Linked DNA regions of Homo sapiens: all the other regions are linked to region 4. The links come from fine-mapping of genetic effects on gene expression. A gene starts in region 4. Each other region holds a variant in brackets. All regions are shown on one strand. Distances are between the middles of the regions.

Region 1 (4,087 bases), 32 kb before region 4:
CAGTTGATGAACATTTGGTTTTTTTCCACTTTTTGGTGGTTATGAATAATGCTATGAGTATCTGCATACAAGTTTTTCTGTGGTCACACGATTAGTTCTCTTGGGTATATATCTAGGTGTGGAATCACTGAGTCATATGGTAACTATGTTTAACCATTTGAAGAACTATCAGATTGCTTTTCACAGTAGCTGCACCATTTGACATTTCCACCAGCAGTGTTTCAGAGTTCTTCTTTCTCCACATCTTCACCAACACTTGTTATTGTCCTTCTTTTTAAATTATAGTCATCCTAGTCCATGTGAAGTGGTATCTCACTGTGGTTTTGATTTTCATTTCCCTAATGACTAATGATGTTGAACATCCTTTCATGTGCTTTTGAGCCATTCCTCTATCTTATTTGGTGAAATGTCTATATAAATCCTTTGCCTATTTATAAATTGGGTTATTTATCTTCTTATGATTGAGTTGGAAGTGTTCTTTGTGTATTTTGGATACATCAGATATATGATATATCAGATATATGACCTATAAATATTTTCTTCCATTCCATAGCTTTTCATTTTCTTAGTGGTACCTCTTGAAACCCAAAAGTTTCTCATCTTGATGAAGTCCAATTTAGCAGTTTTTAAAAATTCCTTATGCCTTTGGTGCTGTGTCTCAGAAATCTTTGCCTAACTCAAGGTCACAAAAATTTAGCTCATACATTTAGGACTATCATCAATTATGAGTAATTTTTGTGTATGATATAAGGGAAAGGTCTAAATTCATCCTTCTGCTGGTAGATCTCGGTTGTTCCAGCATATGAATTATTGCATTTTGTCTGCTGCCTTCTTCTATCCCCTCCTCTATTTTAGCATTCCCAGAGGTGAGCAACACTCCTCCTCTTGCCCCCAGTGGCAGCCCCCCACCCCCACTTAACCCCACTTATAAAATCTGGAGATTTTGCATGAAATCTTTTAGTTTTTAAATGATGTCAATTATTCAATTGTTTCATTTGTCTTCTTGATACATCAGATATATGATATATCAGATATGTGAGACCAACAGACTGTCTTGATGGCACAACTCCAATTCCAGTGTTCCAGAAGAGAGAACTGGGCTGACTGGTTTGTTCTGGGTCAGAGATAACTTCTGGTTCAATCACGTGTGCCCAGGGGTCAGGGTTACATAGTATAACTGTGGCTGCCAGAGCCCACCCTAGGTGAAATGATGGTTCTCAGAGAGGAGGCTTGACTTGAGCTGGGAAAATACCCCAAAAGGTGTCCACTCCTGGGTCATTATCTCATATTCAGCATTCTGCATCCCCTATGAACCAGCTTGAGGTTTCTACCTGGGGGCTTACAAAATTTATTTTGTTTACCCTGTGTAGTGTTCAAGAAGACAAATGAAACAATTGAATAATTGACAGCATTTAAAAACTAAAATATTTCATGTAAAAACTCCAGATTTTGTGTTTCCTTTTAAAAACAGGCAGATCTGAGTCTGCAGCAGTTGGTAGAATGTGAGTGGCAGCTGCCCTCTTCAAGCAGAGGACAGGCTCTCCAGGTTGCCCCGATCCCTACCACTCCCTCTTGCTCCACACACAGTCCTCTGTTCTTAGTAGCTTTTCTTCTCTGACTCTGTAGCCTCTTTGCACATGTACCTCCACCCCTGGAAAACCCACTGGGGCCACTACCTGCCCGCAAGGTCATCTGCCTCTTGCATCTTACCCAGAGGCTGACTCTTAAGCCAGAACTCCTCCAGATTCTAAGTCAGTTAGGTTCCTGTAATACTAGGCCCATAATGGCATTTTGCTATTTGCAGTCTGCTCTGTTCATCACAACCAGTGGCACTGATAAGCCTGGGTGTTTCATGGAAATTATGACCTGGCCAGACTTAATGAGATTATGCAGTACTGGAGCACCCTCATGCATGACACCTCTTTCTCAGAATTAGATCAAAGAAATTAATGTTCTGACTTACTTGACTAGAATAACCAGCCTACAAATGATGAAGAGGATAGAGAAGTTTGGACTGGGGAGTAGCAGGTGAGGCAGTTTAGAATGAATCAAGAAAGGAATCCCAAACTCTCACTTTGTACTAGAGAAAATAAAAGATGTGCTAAGCATGTGGAAAACATTTCTTTATTTTTATTTTTTTATTGAAGGAATCTATATTTTGTTTTTTTCAAAATGAATGCAGTTAGCTCTTATTTTCCCTATTATAAAATAAAGACAATCTCATTGTTGAAATCCTGAGAAATACCAAATATAATAAGTATCATCCAGTACCCAGAGAAAACCATGGTTGATGTAACATAACAAAGATTCACCCTGGATAGAAGCCTGTTAGTTAACAGAATTGACATTGTCCTGTACAAACAAACCACGTACGTCTTCTATAAATTTCATCATAAGCATTTTACCACCTAATTGCTGGTGCTCTGTAATGATTATCAAGGACCCCATGATATTCTATTCTGTAGCCACTGAGAGTTGAAGCCAGCTGGACTCCCTGGGTGGAGTGGGAACTTGGAGAACTT[TTCTG/T]TCTTACAAGAGGATTGTAAAACGCACCAATCAGCACTCGGTAGCTAGGAGTGTAAAACGCACCAATCAGCACTCTGTAGCTAGCAATGGGATTATAAAATGCACCACTCAGGCTGGGCACGGTGGCTCACGCCTGTAATCCCAGCACTTTGGCAGGCCGAGGCGGGTGGATCACGAGGTCAGGAGATCGAAACCATCCTGGCTAACACAGTGAAACCTTGTCTCTACTGAAAATACAAAAAAAAATTAGCTGGGTGTGGTAGCGGGCGCCTGTGGTCCCAGCTACTCCGGAGGCTGAGCCAGGAGAATGGCGCAAACCTGGGAGGTGGAGCTTGCAGTGAGCCGAGATGGCGCCACTGCATTCCAGCCTGGGGGACAGAGCGAGACTCCGTTTCAAAAAAAAAAAAAAATGCACCAATCAGTGCTCTCTAAAACATAAAACACACCAATCAGCGCTCTGTAAAACGCACCAATCAGCACTCTGCAAAATGTACCAGTGGGCGCTCTCTAAAATGCACCAGTCAGCAGGAGTCTAAAAGTAGCCAATAGTGGGGACGACTGAAAAAAGGGCACTCTGATAGGACAAAAACGGAACATGGGAGGGGACAAATACGGGAATAAAAGCTAGTCACCCCAGCCAGCAGAGGCAATCCGCTTGGGTCACCTTCTAGGCTGTAGAAGGTTTCTTCTTTTGCTCTTCACAGTAAATGTTGCTGCTCACTCTTTGGGTCCTTGCCATCTTTAAGAGCTCTAACACTTGGCCGGGTGCGGTGGCTCATGCCTGTAATCCCAGCACTTTGGGAGGCCAAGGCAGGCGGATCAGGAGGTCAGGAGATCAAGACCATCCTGGCTAACATGGTGAAACCCCGTCTCTACTAAAAATTCAAAAAATTAGCCGGCCATGGTGGCGGGTGCCTGTACTCCCAGATATTCGGGGAGGCTGTGTCAGGAGAATGGTGTGAACCTGGAAGGCAGAGCTTGCAGTAGCCAAGATCATGCCACTGCACTCCAGCCTGGGCAACAGAGCCAGACTCCGTCTCAAAAAAAAAAAAAAAAAAAAAAAAAAAAAGCTGTAACACTCACTGCAAAGGTCTGCGTCGCCATTCTTGAAGTCAGCGACACCAGGAACCTGCCGGAAGGAACCAACTCCGGACACACTACCTCAAGATACATTTAGTTCCCAAATGCCAGCTCATTTCTCTTTATTTTCTATCATAAATAATGTTGCAGTGAGCGTCTTTGTGCATAAATCTTTATTTACATTTTAGATTACCATGAGATAAATTTTTAACTATAAAGTGTTCAGGGAAAAGTAGAAAAGTGGACCAAAAGGTATGGTACAATATTCGTCAATGGGATAAATCCTACCTCAAACTTCTTTAAGTCTGAACTTCTTTTGAAAATTATGCTTACACTTTCTGCACTTAGTACATCTCCCCTGGCTTCTGCTGTTCTGTATTGGTTTGGGTCTCTCTTTTTTTTTTCCTTTTTTTAGATGGAGTCTTGCTCTGTCACCAGGCTGGAGTGCAGTGGCATGATCTTGGCTCACTGCAACCTCTGC
Region 2 (4,087 bases), 280 kb after region 4:
GGGTAACACCTCCCTGAAAGTTTCTACTTTCCTATAAAGCCCAGCCCCGGCCCAGGCCCGAGTCCTCTTATGAACAGAACAACCCCAACCACCCATTTGCAGAGGGCACTGCTGTTTGGTACTGACCCTGCCCTGCCCAGGCTGGCAGCCCTCCAAGGAGGCTGGGCAGGAGGTCCCGGAGGACACGGCCCACAATGCTCACCCTTTTCATTCTCCATCTTGCCCCATCACCTCCCACCTCGGCCCCTTCCTCCAGGCAGCCCGCCCCGCCCTTTTCCACACACCCCTGGTTCCCAGCACTGAAGCTTGCTTGCTGTGTGATCTCAGGCCAATTGCCTTACCTCTCTGGGCTTGTTTCCATCTTCACCTCACAGGTAGATGTGAGGTCACCTCACAGGTAGATGTGAGGAGTGAAAGAGGGAGTATTCGCAGCAGGTCTACACAGCGTGTGGCACAGAGCTGGCTACATGAATGTGTGTTCGTTGAATGGGAGAGTGAAAGAATGGATGGATTGTGCTGGCAAACCCTCCAGGGGCTCAGTTTCTTCCACTCGGACCATCAGAACCCAGAGATCAGATCCAGGAGCTCCTAAATGCAACCTTTGTTAGAAACACAGCTCCCCTGCCCTGCACTGCTCAGTCCCACCCTGGGGGAGTTTCCAGCCGCACTGAGGATGAGCTCGGTGGGGACCTGACCCAGAGATAGGGACACCTGGTCACTGGACCGCAGACCGGCCCATCCACAGCCTGGCTGGGCTGGCATCTAGACCTCGCTTGGCAGTCCCCTCCCAAGAGCTCAGATAGTTTGGCCTCGGGAGACAGGGGCAGTGAGAAGGCTGCCTCCCCTCAGCCTGGGAGCTGGGTCCTCAGGAGAGAGGAAATTTCCTTCTATTTATTTTCGACATCCTCGACTTTGAAAGCCAAGCTGGTGTTGATATTTACCTTGGCCAGGCCTCCCATCTCCCCGGGCCAGCCTCGTGTAAACATGCTGTTCCTTCTCTCAGCTCTGCTAGCACTGAGGTGGCCTTTTGCAACCAATTCTAGGAATTTGGAAGTCTGAAGGCGTAGGTTCAGGGACTGGCCCTCCAGGGAGCCCTGGGTGCCAGGGGCCCTGGGACCTGCTGTGCTGGCCTTGGGCTCTCTCCCTGGGGGCTGACACCAAGGACTGCAGGGAATGAATGGGCCTGGGCCCATGGGGGTGTCGGCCAGGGTGGCTCTTGCTGGGTCCCTCAGTTCTCCTCACAGCCACGTTGGGGCCTCCTGCTCCCCAGGTTCACTGCGAGGCTCAGACTCGGAGGACACGCATTGAGGGACTGTGGCAGGATCTGGCTGTCTCCACTGTCTTTGCTCCAGGCCACCTCCACCCTGGCTGGTGGGGAGGGCTTGCTCTTGAGCCAGCTCTCTAGTGTGAGTTGGGAGTGTGGGCAGCTGGACTACAGTTAGAGGGAACATGGAGCAGGTGCCCAGGGTGCAGCCTCCCAAGGCAGCACGTGCCCATGCCAGAATTCCTGCCCTCAGGGAGCTTGCCTTCCAGAGGGCAGGTGGACCACAAGGAGAACAAGCTGGCTTGGGGTGGGGGTGAGTGCTGCAGAAGCCAGGATGAGCAGAGGCTGGCTGGGTCAGGGACGGTCCCCCGAGGTGGACATGCAGGAGGTGAGCAGAGGCACATTCCCCAGTGCAAATCCCAGCCCTCCCCTGTTGGTTCCACCAGGTGGTTCACACACTAGTGACGCCTTGGCAAGTCTGAGATTTGGTTTCCTTGTACAGAAATGGGGTGACAGTCCCTCAGAAACAAGGGAGTGGTTCTGCAGGTGGGAGCTGCCATGACTGCTGCGGTTTTGAAGCATCTGTGTGCCCCCCACCGGGCAGTGGGACATCTCGGCTGAGCCTCTCCCCTTCTCCATGCAGATCTGGGACATGAGCGA[T/C]GATGAGACCATCTGAGATGGCCCCGCTGTGGGGCTGACTTCTCCCCGGCCGCCTGCTGAGGAGCTCTCCATCGCCAGAGCAGGACTGCTGACCCCAGGCCTGGTGATTCTGGGCCCCTCCTCCATACCCCGAGGTCTGGGATTCCCCCCTCTGCTGCCCAGGAGTGGCCAGTGTTCGGCGTTGCTCGGGATTCAAGATACCACCAGTTCAGAGCTAAATAATAACCTTGGCCTTGGCCTTGCTATTGACCTGGGACTTGGTCCTCCATGCAGTTTTTATTTCTTGTCACAGTGACTGATAGCCATCCCCCAGGATCCTTTCCCCTTGGCCCTGAGGGGGTGACCCAACACAGACCAAATGGGGAAATGAGCAACCAGCTCCTGCCCAGAGCCACTGCGGGAGGTGGCACCCTCATCCCCGGAATGTGCTGCCCACCGCACCGCAGGCTCCTCCTGTGGGGGCCCTGGGCATGGGTGAGGGTGGGACCCCGTGAGCGCACTGCACCCTGGCCCTGGTGGAGCGGGAGGAGGAGGAGAGCCGAGCTGGGTACGAGACTAAAGGGCCCACATGACCCAGTGACGCCAGATTTCCACCAAGGACTGAGTGAGCTGCTCAGACATGGCTTTCTGCCTCCCAGCCTGTCCTCCACTGTGGGCATAGCATCTGTGCCTGCCTGCCTGCTTGAGGGAGAGGAGTTTCTGCTGCTGCCTTGAGCTGGGGGGAAGAGCCCAGGGGCAGATCCTGGCAGCTGCCTGGATGGGGCTCCTCCCTGCCCTTATGAGCAGGCCAGGCCCAGAAAGGCCGAGCCTGGGCTGCCTTCCTGCCCCAGCCGAGGGAGGGGTCAGACGGCTCTACCATGGGTAACTCAGGCAAGAGCTGGTTTTCCTCTTTATTCTGGGTGTGTGCAGCTGTGAGGCCCCAACCCAGGAGAGGCCATGGCCTAGGTACCTGTGACCACCCTGCCCCCGTGTAGAGGGCATCGTCTTTCCTGCTATTTTATTCTTTCAGCTTTTGTCTTAGGCCCAGAATCAAAGTGAAAATTGAGTCGAGCTGACCCTTACAACAGTAGGATTTAGTAGGGTAGATTTCAAATGAGGCTTCGCTTCTCCCAAAGTAGCCAGTCCAAGTTCCAGTGGCTGTCGTTCAGCTCATGGGAGCTTCATGGGGACACAGCCGGCACAGGTGCAGGGCCCGAGTCCGCCCACCCAGCCTGGCGCTGAAACTGCACACGTACACTATGTGGTTTAAGAGCACTTTATTATTGTTCTTAAGGCTACTTTTAAGTACAAAAAAAGATGGCCTGCCAAACCTTTTTTTTTCTTCTTCCAGGAAAAACAGGCCACAGAGAATGGTATATTACAGATTTACACACATGAAGAGAAGGTCAGAGCGCACTGCAGGCAGCGCGGCTCTGGGAAGAACTTCACGGAGCCCCTTCTTAGAGCAGGGAGGGGGCTTTCTCAGTGAAATGTTTGGTTTTCTGCTGCCTCCTCTGCCCCAGGCCCCCCTCCAGGGTACTGCCTATCCCAGATAGGTCAGTGCACCAGGGACCCGGCCGCCAGCACCGCCGACCCCTCCCAGAGTGACGCCCTTGTTCACTGACAAAGAGACCTGTCCCAGGAGTGTCCTCCACCGAGCCGGTCAGCTGTGGGTGGTTTTCCTGTTACGACGCTCAGTAGCCTGTAGCAATAACAAACTCGTGGCTATGAATGCAGATGCAGTGTTCTCATAGAATAACTGTTCCTGCACTTTTACAGACAAATCTACGACAAAAAAAAAGATCAACTTTTTTTTTCCGAACAACAAAAAAAATGAATGATTACAATAGGAAAGGGAAAAATTAAATAGCTACATATCATTAACAAATTAATGTTCTTCAAAAAATACCTACAAATTTCTCTGTACATTCTTTACGCACAGCGTAACGATGGTCTCAAAATCACCCATATAGAAAAGTGTTCTCAACGATTTTTCCTACAGAAAATATAGGGGCCTGAATGCCAAAGCTTGGAAGCCCAGTACAGTGGGAGTGAAATGTGTGCGGGGCAAGGAGAAGGGCTTTTCTTTCCTCCACTTTTCAAAGGCCTGCAGCCACTCTGTGACTACAAGAGCCAGTCCTCCGACCTTTTCACCCAGTGCCAATTTCCAAAATTCAACAGCTA
Region 3 (4,087 bases), 290 kb after region 4:
CAGAGGTTTCTTTGGTAACTGAGGCAGGAAGTAAGGATGCTACATTAGACAGATGTTCCACGCGTAGTTCCTGCTATCATGTTTGAGGGCCCCCTTGTACGGATACCAAGCAAGTACAAAAACAGAACACAAATCCCAACAACATGGTTTTTGCAAATAAACCATCCCTTCCCTTCCCCCCACCCCACCCCCATGATTTTTTTTTTTTTAAGTACTGACTGTTCAAAGCTCAGGCAAACCATGCAGATCCACGTGTTGTTGGAGGAGGCGCTCCCTTCAGGAGACCACAGAGGGGGAGTGACTGTGGCTGACCATGTGGGCAGAGGGGCTGGCGGGCTGGCCCCTGCGAGAGGCGGACTCAGGGCTGCTGGATGCTCCGTCCTTGGCCGCTTTGATCTGGAGCCACGTGTCACCCAGAGCTTTGGCAAAGTGGTCGTCCACGGAGCCCGTGATGGACACGGAGTTGGGTGCCGGCTCGGGCTCCTTGTAATTCTTGCCCAGGCTCCTGCGGAAATGCTCCTCCACCACGGGGTCACAGGTGGTGGCAGCTGCAGGCAAGCAGGAAGGCAGGCAGTCAGACACAGGTGGCTGCAGACAGACAGGCACGGTTGCAGCACCCTCCCTCAGGCAGCCCAGAGCCGGACTGGCTGCCACGGTCAGCGTGGGCTCTGCAGACAGAACCCACCTCCCCCGGCTAAGTCAGGCACTTGGGCAGGTCACTTTTCTGTAAAATGGTGATGTACCAACTGCACTGGGCCAGAGTCCGAGTTCAGAAAGAGAATGTGGCATTAAATTTAAATAACAGTAGCCGCTGCCCTCCCTGCAACTAGGGCATGAGACCCTGGAACTGAGCGAGGCGGTGTGTTTCTCATGCCCTTCCCACCCAAGTCATGCGCAACGCTAGGCGCACACTGGACGTGCTCAAGAAATACTTTTTCAACCTCAGCAATAGATGGGCTCAGGGGCGAGAGGTTTCAGCCAACAGCATGACAGAGAAGGGCTCTGCTGCCACTAGCACAGCTGTGACAGGTGAGGAGGCCCGGGACACTCACCGCTCGGTGGCCTCCGGTAGCTGGCAGGCCCGGGCGCGGCACAGCCGCTGTGCGCGATGGGGCAGTGCGAGAGGTTGCAGTTGCGGGCGCCAGCCGAGGCACAGGTGATCACGGAGGGCCGGTTCTGCGGGGAGGAGGGGTGTCAGTATGTGGAGACCAGCTTCAGTACCGGGCACCACCCCTGGGGCCCTCCCCAGCACCCTTCAGGCTCTGTCCTGGTGCCCTTCCTGACCCAGTCTGCCACCTCCCACTTCAATACTGGAGTCCTGTTGCTAAACACAGCCAATCCACAGAGTGAGCGCAGCTCCAAGGGTGTGTGTAGTGGCCCTTGGTCGTGGCTGTTTGGATCAGTGAGGGTACAAAGGACAAAAGCTCAACTGTTGAGTTGGTCTGTCCCCATCTCTCAAATCTGTTAAGACAAACACCGGGCATCCTGTGGAGGACAGAGGGTTGCAGGAGGGACCTCGATTCTCCCGTTAACGTCCCCAGAGCCCTTCCCATCATGTCCACTGAGCCGCGGGTGTGCCTGGAGCCATCCAGGACACTTCAATACACGGCAATTAACTGGAAGCATTTTGCTTGAGCCAAAGCCAGCTCGAGTTGGCCTCAGTGATGACCTACAAATCGGGACAGAGAGGAAATGGAGGAAATATGCCTAAGTGTGGAACGGCACACATCCCACCCCAGCCCGATCTGCCCTGTGCACAGCCTCACTCTCTCCTTCACCCCCACCCCCACGCTGTCTGCCTGGCAAACTCCCCTTGTTCCTTCAAGCCCTGTTCAGATCTCTCTCTGAAGCCTTTCACTGGCCACCGCCCCACCACCACCGCTTTTCACTCCTGCTCCCCTAACCCACCAAGATTCAGCAAGTGCATCGGTCTGTCCAGGTGCTCCCGTAAGACCATGCACACCAGGCAGTATGTCTGGCCCCCCAGCTTTGGTGTGGAACCTGGGACAGAAAATATTTGTGAACTAAACAGAACTTCCTCAG[G/T]TTCCCCCAGGAAAAGTATCTTCCAATACCCCCGAGGACAAGGTGGTGGAGTATGTGGGCTAAGTTCCAGGACAGCCAGCAAGGAGCTGGTTGAAATCACCCCACAGGGACCAATGGTGACAGCAGTGTCAGCCAGAGGGACGCTGGGCCTTATCCTCCCCAGCCAGCCCTTTCCATTAAAGTTAGAGCAGTAGCTGGTATAAAGACACAAAAGGCTTGCATGCCAGACCTTCTCATGATAGACGACAGTGATTGGGAATGGTGAAAGTGGATTCTAGGATGAAAATGTGGATCCACAAGGATGAACTGGGATTGAACACAAGGACCTGTGCTTGGGTCTAACAAGAAGCGACACATGCCAGGGTAGGGGGGGATGTGGCTTAGCAACAGCAGACCAACCAAGAATTCAGGGTTTCTTAGTGGCCCGACACTTAGCAGCGGGACAGAGCTGCCCAGGGTTCGTACGGCCTCCATGGTGTGCACAGGTGGCAGCGCAGAGAGAACCCGGGCAGGTGGAGCTGGGCTGAATGTCCACGTTCTGCCTGTGGACAGGGCCTCGGGTGAGAGACTTCACAATGCTGAGCAGACAGGCTCGGAAAGGGGGTTGGGGACCGACAGATGAGGCCTGGAGCAGATCTCACACTGGCTGACCACAGGGGTCAAGCAGCAGCAAGAGAGCAGAATACCGAGACCTGGACACGCACAGAGCCAGGAGGAAGGAGGGCCCTGCCCCTGTCCAGCTCTCAGAGATGGCCAGGCCCTTCCTGAGCCTGGCTGCACCCATGACCTTGGGCTCTAGGAGACCCCCCCCCAGGGTCCTCCCAATAAAACTCCCTTTTGTGCTCAGCCGGCTTGTTCTTTGCAGCGAGCGTGTCCTGACCCACGCAAATGTGGGGAACTGGGGAGACATTTCGAGCACAGGGAGGGGGAATCAAGGAAGATGAAGAAATGAGCTCACTGTCCAGCCTTTATGTCAGTCTATCCAAGGCAGGAAAGGCCACTTCAGAAGAGACTCTCTAACAAGGGACCAGCAGGGCAGGCTGGCTGACTGGTATCAGACCACCTTCAGGGCATCTCCTGACCTGAGCTGGGGCGAATTGCCTTAACCGGTCACCTGCAGATGTGAAGATGTTCAGTGTCTGGGCATCCTCTCCTCCTCCCCACAACCCAGGCTGCAGGGTGGCCCGTGAGCCCTCGTGGGACTGGCTCCACCACCCCTCCTCCCCAGCTGGAGTCAGGCATCTTGCCCCTGCCTCTGTGGTTGAGTGCAGGCTGGGACTCGTCCACCTAGAACGGGCCCCAGGCCTCCAGATGGTGAGCGTTTATGGGATCCCGAGGCTCCCCTCCCCCACACCCTTATTTTCCAGATGGGGAAAATGAAGGCCAGAAACACCCTGTTGGAAGTTACGCTGCGGATTTGTGGCAGGGCCAGTATGAGCCCTGTCACTAACCCCTTCACCCGCTGTCCCACCCACCTGTGACTGTCCTCAGACAGAGGCTGCCCCGGGGGAGAGGGCTCCCACCACCTCTCCTATCTGAAAGCAACCCCCAAGGCTGGCTGCGCCAAACTTTTTTTTTTTTTTTTTTTTTTTTTAAAGACAAAGTCTCACTCTGTCGTCCAGGCTGGAGTGCAGTGACGCGATCTTGGCTCATTGCAAGCTCCGCCTTCCGGGTTCAAGCGATTCTCCTGTCAGCCTCCCGAGTAGCTGGGATTACAGGCACCCACCACCACGCCTGGCTAATTTTTGTACTTTTAGTAAAAACAGGGTTTCACCATGTTGGCCAGGCTGGTCTCGAAATCCTGGCCTCAAGTGATCCGCCGCCTCAACCCCCCAAAGGGCTGGGATTACAGGTGTGAGCCACTGTGCCCAGCCCTCAATGTGCGAAGCTTAACCCCATCTTGCCTCTCCTCACTGGCTGCTGCCCAAGGCCACCCTCTTGGTGTTTGTCTGTCCTGAGCTGCTATCACAAACATGAAATGGGGGGACACTTTCTGTAGCCTCCCCATACATGCCCCTCTGGGAACTTTCCTGTCCCAGTTCCC
Region 4 (4,087 bases):
AGGCTCCTTACTTTAACCTACTCTCAGCTTGAACTAGCATACTGTCTCATGTGTCCGTGTGAAGAGACTACCAAACAGGCTTTGTGTGAGCAACAAGGCTGTTTATTTCACCTGGGTGCAGGTGGGCTGAGTCCAAAAAGAGAGTCAGCAAAGGGTGGTGGGATTATCATTGGTTCTTATAGGTTTTGGGATAGGCGGTGGAGTTAAAAGCAATGTTTTGGGGGTAGGGGGTGGATCTCACAAAGTACATTCTCAAGGGTGGTGAGAATTACAAAGAAACTTCTTAAGGGTGGGGGAGACTATAAAAGAACCTTCTTAAGGGTGGGGGAGATTACAAAGTACATTGATCAGTTAGGGTGGGGCAGAAACAAATCACAATGGTGGAATGTCATCAGTTAAGGCTATTTTCACTTCTGCGGATCTTCAGTTGCTGCAAGCCATCTGGATGTATACGTGCAGGTCACTGGGGATATGATGGCTTAGCTTGGGCTCAGAGACTGACACACACAACCCCTACTGAGAATAGGTTGGCCTCAAGATAAAACATTCTCTAATCTACTATCTGATCAAGCCACCCCTTCATCCCACTTCCCATATTCGGTTGTTTCCAGCCTTGTTTACCTGCCTTTGGGGAGGGTGGGGGGTGGGGGAACCCTCTTTTTCCCTAACCATTGAAACATCTGCGGATGTTTTGGTCAGAGTGATCTCACTATTGCAATAGTCTCCCTCTGCTATTGCACGGTTCCTTCTCTCCCACCTCTCTCACTTCTTGCAGTAATCCTTTCTTTTTTTTTTTTTTTGAGACGGAGTCTCGCTCTGTCGCCCAGGCTGGAGTGCAGTGGTGGGATCTCGGCTCACTGCAAGCTCCGCCTCCCGGGTTCACGCCATTCTCCTGCCTCAGCCTCCCAAGTAGCTGGGACTACAGGCGCCCGCCACCACGCCCGGCTAATTTTTTTGTATTTTTAGTAGAGACGGGGTTTCACCGTTTTAGCCGGGATGGTCTCGATCTCCTGACCTCGTGATCCGCCCGCCTCGGCCTCCCAAAGTGCTGTGATTACAGGCGTGAGCCACCGCGCCGGGCCTGCAGTAATCCTTTCTAATAAGTATCCTTATTAGTCTGGATTTGTTTTCTTATTTGCCAGAATCAAACAAACTTCAGATTACGTTCCTGGCCCAAAAGCCCTTTAACTTTCAGCAAGCCACCTAACTTTTCTTAGATTCTGTTCTTTCATATATAACTTGGGGATATGTTTCAGGACTCTTGTGAGGATTAGAGATGTAAAACCCTGAAAACATGGTGGCTAGTTAATTAATAGCAGTCATCGCTCTTGTTGTTATGAGTCTAGAGTGGTATATCAGAGTTAATTTGTGAAAGGCCTTACAGGCCAGACAGAGAAACTTGTCATAATCACTGCTGTATCTTCAACACCTGTCCAGTGCTTTGCACGCGCAGAGTATCTAACCAAGTATTGAGAGGGAATAACTTTATCTCACTGACAGTGAGGAGCTGTGAGAATGATGGCTGGTTTAGAAAAGGCAGGTTGGTCACTGTCGACGTTCACTGGCCTTTTCCTACTAAAATTCTCATCTCCTGGCTCTCCACACCTGCCACCCTGATGGCCCCTGTGCTGCGTTTGATGCCGCCTCTCCTGGAGAATGACCATGGTGATCATTCCTGTCATCCTCTGAAATCAAAAGAGAGAACGTGGGCACTTTCTTAAAAGCCTGAAGGGAATGTAGACATTCCGACATCTGGTAAGGGAGACGCTCTCCATCGCTTCCCCCGGGGGCGTCACCGCCCCCTGATGCCCCGCCCTCCTCACGACTCAAGTTCCTCCCACTTAGCTCGGTGCTAGGGGCGCATTTCCCCGGCATGCCTCTGCTCCTTTGCGCACGCGCGCCGCTTCCCAGTGGCAAGCGCGGGCAGGACCGCGTTGCGTCATCGGGGCGCGCGCCTCAGAGAGAGCTGTGGTTGCCGGAAGTTGAGCGGCGGTAAGTGAGCCGCGGCGGGCGAGGGTGTAGTGGGGTCTTGCTGGGCCGGTTTTGGAGGCCTGGAGTCAAGGGGCGAGCTCGCCAGGGAGGGCGAGGGTCACAGCAAGTCTCAGGATCCTCCTCTGCCAGTTTCTGGGTGGTCCTTCCTCCTCCAGGGACTCACTGATTCCGGCTGGCGCCCTTCGTCTGTAGCCGCGTCCCCTCAGACTGGTTCAGTCCGGGGTCTTCTGACTTGGAAGCTCGTGCTGATTTCCTAAGTCAGCCCCTCCTGTCCTCTTGGTAGGCAGTGCTCAGAATCTTCAGTGTTGGAACACGGGAGATGGGACATTTGGATTCCCAGCCTGGCTGTGTCTGGATTTGCTGTCTCTGGCACGTTCCTTCCCCATCTAAGCTGCTTTTCCATCTGCAAAATGGGAATGATAATCCGCCATTTGTTTAAGTGAGGAGGTTAAATAAGTTTACTTTCTGAGAAAGAAGATTCTCGATTCCTTGGTTACAGGGTTAGAAACTAATGCACAATAAGAATCAATCCGGTAAGGTAAATATAGGTGTTAGAACATTTGTCAGAAATAGAGTCAAACTTCTAATTTTATAAGTACAGTACTAACGTACATGATGTTGGAGAAGTACAAGCCAAACCGTGTGTGTGTGCACGTGCGTGCAGTTTCCTGATTTTTAAACACTGGCGACTGATGCCATTTTTTAAAAATTGGCAAGTAATTCTGGCGTTTAAAAACATTGGCAACTCAGTTTTTACAAAACCCTGTTCAACTGTAACCAGTCATATCTGTGGCTGTCAGTTTGGGACCTCTGGATCCCAGACTCCCTTTTTCATTGACTACTTAGATTTTTTTCTCTGACACCTCTGCCCACTGGCCAGATTTCTTCAGTGACAGAAAGCTTTCTACTTCTGGTTGCTCCTGTTTGGTCCTCCCCCAGTTCTGACTCTTAGGTTGAGCTGAAAGCAGCTACTCGGTAATCTTAGCTCACTGTTCCTCCTTCAGGCTCTTGGAATCACCCCTGCATTTAATTGCCCTATACATCATTGAAAGCTGCTAGTTTGTCTTCCTCTTCTCACCTTTTCTTCTCTAGGCTAAGCATATTTAATGTATTTGCTCATAGTAAACTTAACAGTGACAGCAAATTTTGTCATGTTTTGTTATATCCCCAGCATATAGAGCAATGCCTAGCATATTATATATGCTCAATAAATATTTGTTGGATGAATGAATAAAACAAATATTTGCCTGTTATGTGCCTGGCATTATTGTGGGCACTGGTGATCTATCAGTAAAATAAGAAGAAAAAGAACCCTGTTTCATGGCACCTTCTAATAATAGTGGTGGTGGTGGCGGTGGCGGCATTGTCAGTAAGGGTTGGTAGGTGTTTCCGATTCTGAAACGTACAGGGTCATGGGATGGACAGTAATTGGGGGGAAGCATAAAAGCTAGCTAGTCAGGGATGGCTTCCCTGAGGAAGTGACCTAACACTTGAATAAAGAAAAGTCCAGTCTTGGAATGGCTCATGTTGCTAAACTGCTTTCCCATCCCCCAACGCTGCTCCAGTCTTGTTAAGCTGCTTGCAGGTGTGTGTCACCTATAGCCCTTTGCTTCTGCTGCTTCGAACATCTCCCCTTCCTCTTCCATTTATCTTGGCCAACTCCTTCCTGCCCTCATGTGACATGATTTTGAAATCCTTTAAGAGCTGAGTACTGGACTTTCCATTACTCAACCACAGGTTCCGTTTTTCGTTCCCAGCCAGCATCTCATTATAGAGAATAAACATTTATTGAGCTTCAGCTGTGTGTCTGGCACTGCGCTGCAAGCTGGGAATACAAAAATGAGTAAGATACACATCCCTGTCCTCAAAGAGTTTACTTTTTTTTTAAGCCAAGGAGATAGCAACGGTATGGCATGAAGCTATTGCGGAGGTTTGGTAGAGGAGGACTTAGGGTACGCATAAGTCAGGCTGACTCATCAGAGAAGGTTTCAGTGAGGAGGTGCTGCTTTAGCCAAGACCTGAAGGACGAACGAGATCTGACAGGTGAAGAGTGGTTCGAAGTGAGATGAGCAAAGGGCTAGAGGTGAGAATGCAT
Region 5 (4,087 bases), 200 kb after region 4:
GAAGGATTGCTTGAACCCAGGAGGTCGTGGCTGCAGTGAGCAGTGATTGCACCACTGCACACCAACCTGGGCGACAGCGAGACCCTGCTTCAAAAAAATAAAAATAAAAAAGCCTGTAGCCCCTCTTCCTTCCCTAATATATTTGGCTTCTATAAAAATTAAAAACCCAGGGATAAGAAGAAGGGGAGAGAATTGGAAAGCCCCTGGTTAGCTTTAAGGGCCTCTCAGTGCAGCAGAACCCATGCTGGCTCTATTCATAACTTTGCTCTCTGGATCAATATTCTGAAAGTTGGTACATTCTTTTCATTTGTGTCTTTCACAGAGGGCAGTAAAATTTAGCTCTAATTATATTTAGGGCATCTGGATTCTAGTCAGCATTTTCTGGCTCCGTTTTAGAACCTAAAGTCTGCGGCTTATTCCTAATGTGGAAAATGGAATAATCCCCCAGGCATGAGAAGAACTCCAGCATTGAGGCTGCTGTTCCTCTAGCGAGAAGCTGCTGCAGACATCACAAGACTTGTTATACAAGGAAACATGATTACAGTGGATTAAAGAAACTTGCCAGGGGCTTGAAGGATTTATTGCTTTTTGAATTCTGAATGAGACATAAATATGTTTTTCCCCTCTTAATTTTGGACCCCATACGGGTAAGGTGAGAAAATTCTTCAGCAAATTCTAGAATGCTTAGCTGCTAAAGATCAGTTGGTTTTGTGTCCACGTCATATTGCAAAGGGCATGAATACTTGCTTGGCAGAGACACAAAACAGTCACTCATTTCTTTCTGTTCTGCCAAGTTAGTTACTGCCTTGTCTCCCAGTGGGAGAAAAATGTAACTCCTTGGGGACTCTTCTGGAAGGCAGCATGGTGTAATGGAAAAAGCACTGTAGTCACAGGCACGAGGCCTAGACTACAGCGTCGGTGCTTATAAGTTCCATTATTTACAACAGGTTTCTTAAACTCTGTAAGCCTTTGTGCTCTTACTGCTCTTTTCGGAAAAAGCAGTTCTCAGAGGGTTGTATGAAGGATTATAGCACCTTTATGTTCAATATCATCTATAGAAACTCAACTGTTGGATGCATTAGCATCAGAATGACAGCTTGTAGTACACTCATTTGTGTTCACAGATCTCAGAAATTTTTATGTCCTAAATGGAGGGACTTTTAAAAATAATGATGGAGCTGGGCATGGTGGCACACACCTGTAATCCCAGCACTTTGGGAGGCCGAGGCGGGCAGATCACCTGAGGTCAGGAGTTTGAGATCAGCCTGACTAACATGGTGAAACCCCATCTCTACAAATACAAAAAATTAGGTGTGGTGGCGGGCGCCTGTAATCTCAGCTGCTTTGGAGGCTGAGGCAGGAGAATCACTTGAACCCGAGAGGCAGAGGTTGCAGTGAGCTGACATCATGCCATTGCACTTCAGCCTGGGCAACAAGAGTGAAACCCCATCTCAGAAAAAAACAAAAACAAACAAAAAAAACTGATGGCTTCTTAACCCTATCACTTCTGCAGATTCTTTGGTTTCTCAGGAAGCCAAAGAGATAGCATGGGGCAGTGGTTAGTAACAACTCTGGAGTCAGACCAACCTGAGTTTAAATTCACTACTTATTAGCTGGGAAGTCTTTGAACAACTCACCTAACCTGTTGTTCTCATTTTCCTAATCCGTAAAATGGACATAAAATATTACCTCAACCGTAATTTGTTTTGTTTCGTTTTGTTTTGAGATGGAGTCTCCCTGTGTCGCCCAGGCTGCAGTGCAATGGTGCGATCTCGGCTTACTGCAACCTCCGCCCCCCAGCTTCAAGCGATTCTTCTGCCTCAGCCTCCCGAGTAGCTGGATTATAGGCATCCACCATCGTGCCTGACTAATTTTTGTATTTTTAGTAGAGGCGGGGTTTCACCATGTTCGCCAGGCTGGTCTTGAACTCCTGACCTCAGGTAATCCACCTGCCTTGGCCTCCCAGAGTGCTGGGATTACAGGCGTGAGCCAATGCGCCTGGCCCTATTTTTTTATTCCTTTGTCCTGTTTCCTATGTGGGACTTATCACCGTTTGGCATTATTATTTATTTGTGTTCTGTCTACCACCCCAGCCCCACTCAAATATAATCCCCATAAAGGCAAAGACATTATATGTCTTATTTACTGCTTTATATGTCTTGCCTAACAAAGTAACTGGTACATTATTGTTACTTAATATTTTTACCTTTGAATTTTTTTGCCAAAATAATACAGAATTAGAAAGAATTCCTCCCCCAGTGTCATGGCTAAATTTATATACAGTAGCTGACTTGGAAACTGGGCAGAGTTGTTTTGCGTTTGGAAATACTGGTGTTCTTACAGTTGAGTTTCTATTTCCAAAAGATGCTTACTCAGCCTTTGATGGCACAGTTTGACTTGTGACATCAGAAGGTTGACAGGCAGAAGTCTGAGTCAGAAATTCAGCTATAGAAGAGCGTGACTTTCATCCCTGCTCGCCCTTTGAGGTATGGCTGGACACAGCTCAGAAAGGTCTTGGATTT[C/T]AATTTGTCTAGGAAGGTATTTAGCAAATTATTTTTACCATTTGGATTTTGGTACCAATCACCCGAGGAATCTGCAGTCTCTGCGTAAGTGAAGAATGAGAATGGAAGGGGTAAGTGGAGCTAGTGGGAGAGCACAGGCCAGCCCGCCACTTCCCTGGAAGAACTGATGGCTTTTTCCAAGGCCTGGATCATGCCTCGCCTATCCTCCTCCCCACTCCATGTCCCCAGTCCATCCTCTGACTTTTATTTACTTACCACCTTGGAAGTCATAAGATTCTGAAGTTTTCCACAGCTGCTGGGACTTAGGCACTGGGCCACTGAGGACAAGCTGACAGGTCAGTGTTTGGGCTCTGGATTTCACATCATTCATTAGCCCTCTCGATCCCCACAGAGAGGGACGTTCATGCTATGAACTGTGTCATGGAGAAAACACAGCCCTAGAAAGAGGAACTCTTGATCCCCCACTACTTCATTCTTTCAAGCCCTGTGACCTGTTCCTCTAAATGCCTGTGGGACCACAGGTGGGCTTGGGATGGGGATGCTTCCTGAATGCCCAGGGACTGTACGCAAAATGTTACGTGTGTGTATTATGGGCAGCCAGGGAGGCTCGGTTTCATCAGACTCTCAACAGATACCATCTTTGGTCTAAAATAGATTTGGAACCATGACCCTGAGTGGACCTAATGTATTTTTGTAATGTTTGTAGACTGCACATTTGCCCCTCTGGCCCTCCAGGCTGTGTGTGGGCAGATTGAGGATGGAAAAGCTGAAGCGGTGCACAGCTGCCCAATCTTGTTGGGTTGTTGCATGATGGCTCTCTCATCTCTTCTTGAGTTTGCTTATTTACACAATTAAGCTAGGCCCATTGTGAATCAAGTCCTGACCTGTCAACAGAAGATGAGATGGTTGAAGAGGGTAGCAGGCAATTCTGTGAACAAAATATAGCTATAGATCTGGCTTTAAGAGTAAAATAAGGCCGGGTGCAGTGGCTCATGCCTGTAATCCCAGCACTTTGGGAGGCCGAGGCAGGTGGATCACCTAAGGTCGGGAGTTCAAGACCAGCCTGACCAACATGGAGAAACCCCATCTCTACTAAGAATACAAAATTAGCCAGGCGTAGTGGCGCATGCCTGTGATCCCAGCTACTTGGGGGGCTGAGGCAGGATAATTGCTTGAACCCGGGAGGTGGAGGTTGCGGTGAGCTGAGATCGTGCCACTGCACTCCGGCCTGGGCAACAAGAGCAAAACTCCACCTCAAAAAAAAAAAAGTAAAATAAAATCATGCCACCAACAAACCTACCTATTAGTCCACTGATTTTCTTTCCTCTGTGACAAAATGTTCATCTCCATACTCTTAAAGGAGTGATGATACACTTGGCCTTTCACCTGAGGAAGTATAGGATGGGAGCTGCATGTCCCAGCTCAGGAGTATTGACGTTCCTCTTCTCAGTTAGCCCTGTCCACTGCAGCCCAGCTAATGTCTTACAGGCTATTAGAGATGGTGTACTGGGGCCAAGCATGGTGGCTCCTGTCTGTAATCCTAGCACTTTGGGAGGCTGAGGCGG
Region 6 (4,077 bases), 45 kb before region 4:
AGGGGGAGCAGGGCCAGGAGACCAAGGGACCCCTTCAAAGCCAAACTGAGGACTTGGGCCCCTGGAACTCATTTGTGAGTTCTAAAAATTTTCTTGTAGATTCCCCAGGATTTTCTACAAACAAGACCATGTTATCTTCAAATAGTTTCACTTCTTTCCTTCAAGTCTGGATGCCTTCATTTCCTTTTCTTGCCTAATCGCTTGGCTTCTTTTAACTCCTTTTATTTTTGACAATGTGAGAACCAGGCCTGGCCGGCTGGAGTCGGAGAGAGGGACAGACTGCTCTCTGGAAGGCTGGCCAGACACGGGAAGATATGTAGGCCTAGTCAGGCGACTGCCAGGGCAGATCTCTCAAACTCTGATCTGGCAGGCACTCCAGGTAGCCCCGAGGGATGATCAGGGAAGAGGAGACAGGTGAATGCCTCTTTGGAGCACTCAGTGACGGGAACATATTTCTGGAGCATTCAGTAACTTCATTAAGCACCTCCCCACTTCTTGGCTCTGAGGACACAGAGATGACTCAGACCCACATGTGACACCCACAGTCTAGTGAAAAAAGTCTGATCAGTAATTAAGGAATTACAACCTAGCTTTATTATTTATTTATTTACTTACTTACTTTTGAGACGGAGTCTCGCTCTGTCGCCCAGGCTGGAGTGCAGTGGCACGATCTCGGCTCACTTCAACCTCTGCCTCCCGGGTTCAGGCGACTCACATGCCTCAGTCTCCCAAGTGCTGGGATTACAGGCATGAGCCACCGCACCCGACCACAACCCAGCTTTATAAGGGTTGTAATTGAGGTCTGTGCAGAGTTCAGCGAAGCCCTGGAGAAGGAAGTGAATTAACCCAGCCCAGAGGGACGGATGAATGACTAAAAGGAAGTGACATCAGAACTGGGTTGTAAAGAACTAACTGAATGTCTTGCCAGGGTAAGAGGATGAGAACAGGCATTCCCGGCAGGAGAGCAGCATTTGTAAAGGTATGGGGTGTACACGAGCAGGGCCTATTTGGGGAGAGTGGAGAATCAGAGATGAGGCTGCACAGTAAGGTGAGACCAGGTGGAAAAAGCTCTGTGTGATGGGTCGAAGGTATTGACATATACTAGCCACTGCCCGGCACCCTCCCTCCGTTTCCGGAGTAGACCTGTTTGCTTATCTCGTGGGCATTTGCCAGGCTGATTAGAGTAATGAGTAAAGAAAAGAGGGCACTGGGAAAGCTAAGTTCATTTATATTAGAAATTACATGATACTCTTCCATAAATCAGAAAGATTGAAGAGTGGGTGAAAGAAGGGAAAAGGGAATTAAAGGGGAACCAAGGCAACCTGAAGTTTTTGAGAGAGAGAGCAGGAAGATTTGAGGATGAGCAGGTGATGCTGTAGCTGGCGCTATGTAGCGACAGATGGGAGAAGTTCTTTGTGATGGTTTTGCCTCTTTGAGAGTCTTCAGTAAAGGTTGAAGTTACTTTTCCATATCGTTTTATTTTCTGGATGTTGGACTTGAATTTCTTTTTAATGTGATCATGGGGCCAGGCGTGGTGACTTATGCCTGTAATCCCAGCACTTTGGGAGGCTGACGCGGGTGGATCACTTGAGGTCAGGAGTTGGAGACCAGCCTGGCCAACATGGTGAAACCCCGTCTCTACTAAAAATACAAAAAAATAGCCAGGTGTCATGGTGGGTGCCTGTAATCCCAGCTACTCAGGAGGCTGAGGCACGAGAATCACTTGAACCTGGGAGGCAGAGGTCGTAGTGAGCCGAGATGGCACCATTGCACTACAACCTGGGTGACAGAGCAAGACTCAGTCTAAAAAAAAAAAAAAAAAAGAAGATACCATGTGTAGACTTTATTTGGGTTGTTACCCTTGTATCACACATGTGGGGCCAGGGTGCTTCTGTATATCCTGACAACAGTGGCCAGCCATTAAAGAGTTTTGAGTAGGGGAACTGGATTTGTGGTTTTAGAAAGATCATTTGGCTTCTGTGTGAAAGAGGCCAAAACCAGGAGCAGAAAGACCAGTTAGGAAGCTGTGACAGCAGTTGAGAGACGATGTTGTCAAAGTCTGCAGCAGAACAGAACAGGGGTGACCCCACATGGACATCATCTCTGCTCTTCAGTCACCTGTAGTGCAGAGTTTTGAAGTAGGTCTGAGCATGGAACCGTAGTGGTTGGGAAGGAAATGCCATTTGCCTATGGGGTGATTAAGATCTTTTTTTTTTTTTTTCCTCAGGCGGAGTCTCGCTCTGTCCCCCAGGCTGGAGTGCCGTGACGTGATATCAGCTCACTGCAGCCTCCGCCTCCCTGGTTCAAGCAATTCTCCTGCCTCAGCCTCCCAAGTAACTGAGATTACAGGCGCCCGCCACCACGCCTGGCTAATTTTTGTATTTTTAGTGGAGACGAGGTTTCCCCATGTTGTCCAGGCTGGTCTCAAACTCCTGACCTAGGTGATCTGCCCACCTCAGCCTCCCAAAGTGCTGGGATTACAGACGTGAGCCACCA[C/T]GCCCGGCCTTACCTTTTCATTATGTAAATACACACCCAGAAGGAGGCCTGTCTGAGCTGCACAGGACTCTGGTCTGCACCTGAGCATCTTCCTTTCACTTCTGGAGTGCTTGAAGAGATCTAGACAAGACCACTTTCTTTGTGGTTTCTTGACTTGCCCACACCCCCTAGGAACTTCCTCTCTCTGAGAGTGAATAGAGTCTGTCCTTAGATAGCACTTGCCTGAGGAAGCAGCCAGAAGTAAGATTTGCTATCAGTTACTAGGGAAATGATTGCTGTTGGAGCTGGCCAATTAATCAGCAGGACAGAAAGTTCTTGGATGAACTAGGACAGGCCCCAGCCATCCCTAAGGCATATCAAAAACGAGGGGAGAATTGGGAGTCTTATTCACATTTCCATCTCTAGTGGCTTGGCCTAGCATAATACCTGGTACCACATTATTGTTTAATTAATAGTTCCTGAATATATTAATGAATTAGCATAACATGAAACTCTGAATGTGGTCATGTTGGGTCAGAACTGTGGTGCGTTAAAGGCAGGATTCATCTACTTATTCATTCATCACTTACTGAACTCCTCCTACCATAATTCAGCTTTAGTTAGGAAAGTGATTCACAATATTGGTTGCATTGGAACCATCTGGAGAGTTTTAAAAATCCAGGCCAGGCACAGTGGCTCGTGCCTGTAATCCTAGTGCTTTAGGAGGCCAAGGCAGAATTGCTTGAGGGCAGGAGTTGAAGGTCACAGTGAGCTGTGCTCATGCCGCTGCACTCCAGCCTGGGCAACAGAACGAGAACCTGTCTCTAACAAAATTTTTTTTTTTAATCCTGAAACCCAGAGATACCCCAGACCAATTACACCAGAATCAAATCCAGGAGTGGTGAGTCCTCAGCATCAGTATTTTTTTTAAAGCTCTGTTCATGATTCCAATGTGCAGCCAAGTTTGAAAGCCACTGGGCTAGGTGCTGGAAATATAAGTGAATATCACAGTGCTCCTGCCCTTGTAGGGATCAAAGTCTACGTGAAGGACACCTGAATTCATTCTGTAGAATATAGTGGGCCGAGCACAGTGGCTCATGCCTGTAATTCCAATACTTTGGGAGGCCGAGATGGGTGGATCACCTGAGGAGTTTGAGACCAGCCCGGCCAACATGGCAAAACCCCATCTCTATTAAAAAAATACAAAAATTAGCCAGGCGTGGTGGTGCGTGCCTGTTGTCCCAGCTACTCGGGAGGCTGCGACAGGAGAATCGCTTGAACCCAGGAGGTGAAGTTTGCAGTGAGACGAGATCTTGTCATTGCACTCCATCCTGGGTGACAGAATGAGAGTATGTCAAAAAAAAAAAAAAAAAGAATATAGTGGTAAATGCCTTAATAGAGATATGGAAACAATACTGTGGGAACCCAGAAGAAGAAATGCTTAGATATGGCTAAGGGATACAGGAAAGCTTCAAAAAAGAAGGAACAGTTAAGATGGACGTCGTAGAATAAATAGAAGTTCATTGACATTTTCCTTCCCTCTGCCTCCCTCCCTTCCTTTTTCTTCCCATCTTCTTTATCAACCTTTCCACCTTTCCTTTG

Alleles and levels. Alleles are on the strand shown, and positions count from the first base shown. SD is a standard deviation of normalised expression in the study named. Not every link is listed here.
With allele T in place of C in region 5, the expression in skeletal muscle of the gene that starts at base 1,959 in region 4 is higher (large effect, 0.83 SD a copy in FUSION).

The links. PIP is the estimated chance that this variant, and not a neighbour inherited with it, causes the effect.
Region 1: its variant is fine-mapped to the expression of ATG7 in whole blood (INTERVAL, PIP 0.98).
Region 2: its variant is fine-mapped to the expression of ATG7 in sun-exposed skin (GTEx, PIP above 0.99). The same link has a PIP of 0.9 or more in aorta, cerebellar hemisphere, cerebellum, cerebral cortex, esophagus mucosa and esophagus muscle.
Region 3: its variant is fine-mapped to the expression of ATG7 in lymphoblastoid cells (GTEx, PIP above 0.99).
Region 5: its variant is fine-mapped to the expression of ATG7 in skeletal muscle (FUSION, PIP 0.95).
Region 6: its variant is fine-mapped to the expression of ATG7 in whole blood (TOPMed, PIP above 0.99).

The regions. Positions count from the first base shown.
Region 1 is chr3:11,238,915-11,243,001 of GRCh38, forward strand. The region is part of intron 1 of HRH1 (histamine receptor H1); the gene reads left to right. Among named protein-coding and RNA genes, the nearest start is that of ATG7, 31 kb to the right of the region's middle. The variant TTCTG/T (reference allele first, on the strand shown) is at 2,523.
Region 2 is chr3:11,552,904-11,556,990 of GRCh38, forward strand. It overlaps ATG7 (autophagy related 7), which reads left to right. Exons shown (of 21, transcript NM_001349232.2): 21 at 1,908-4,087. The coding sequence ends at 1,940. It overlaps VGLL4 (vestigial like family member 4), which reads right to left. Exons shown (of 5, transcript NM_001128219.3): 5 at 3,166-4,087. Among named protein-coding and RNA genes, the nearest start is that of VGLL4, 89 kb to the right of the region's middle. The variant T/C (reference allele first, on the strand shown) is at 1,925.
Region 3 is chr3:11,558,280-11,562,366 of GRCh38, forward strand. It overlaps VGLL4 (vestigial like family member 4), which reads right to left. Exons shown (of 5, transcript NM_001128219.3): 4 at 1,053-1,176; 5 at 1-548. The coding sequence ends at 277. It also overlaps a transcript of ATG7 not described here. Among named protein-coding and RNA genes, the nearest start is that of VGLL4, 84 kb to the right of the region's middle. The variant G/T (reference allele first, on the strand shown) is at 2,044.
Region 4 is chr3:11,270,439-11,274,525 of GRCh38, forward strand. It overlaps ATG7 (autophagy related 7), which reads left to right and starts at 1,959. Exons shown (of 21, transcript NM_001349232.2): 1 at 1,959-1,992. RefSeq lists enhancers at 1,557-1,606, 1,563-2,154, 1,877-2,006, 2,155-2,744.
Region 5 is chr3:11,465,672-11,469,758 of GRCh38, forward strand. All of the region lies in intron 20 of ATG7 (autophagy related 7), which reads left to right. Among named protein-coding and RNA genes, the nearest start is that of VGLL4, 180 kb to the right of the region's middle. The variant C/T (reference allele first, on the strand shown) is at 2,523.
Region 6 is chr3:11,225,081-11,229,157 of GRCh38, forward strand. All of the region lies in intron 1 of HRH1 (histamine receptor H1), which reads left to right. It overlaps LOC102723663 (a long non-coding RNA gene), which reads right to left and starts at 838. Exons shown (of 4, transcript XR_001740596.2): 1 at 620-838. RefSeq lists an enhancer at 723-1,017. The variant C/T (reference allele first, on the strand shown) is at 2,497.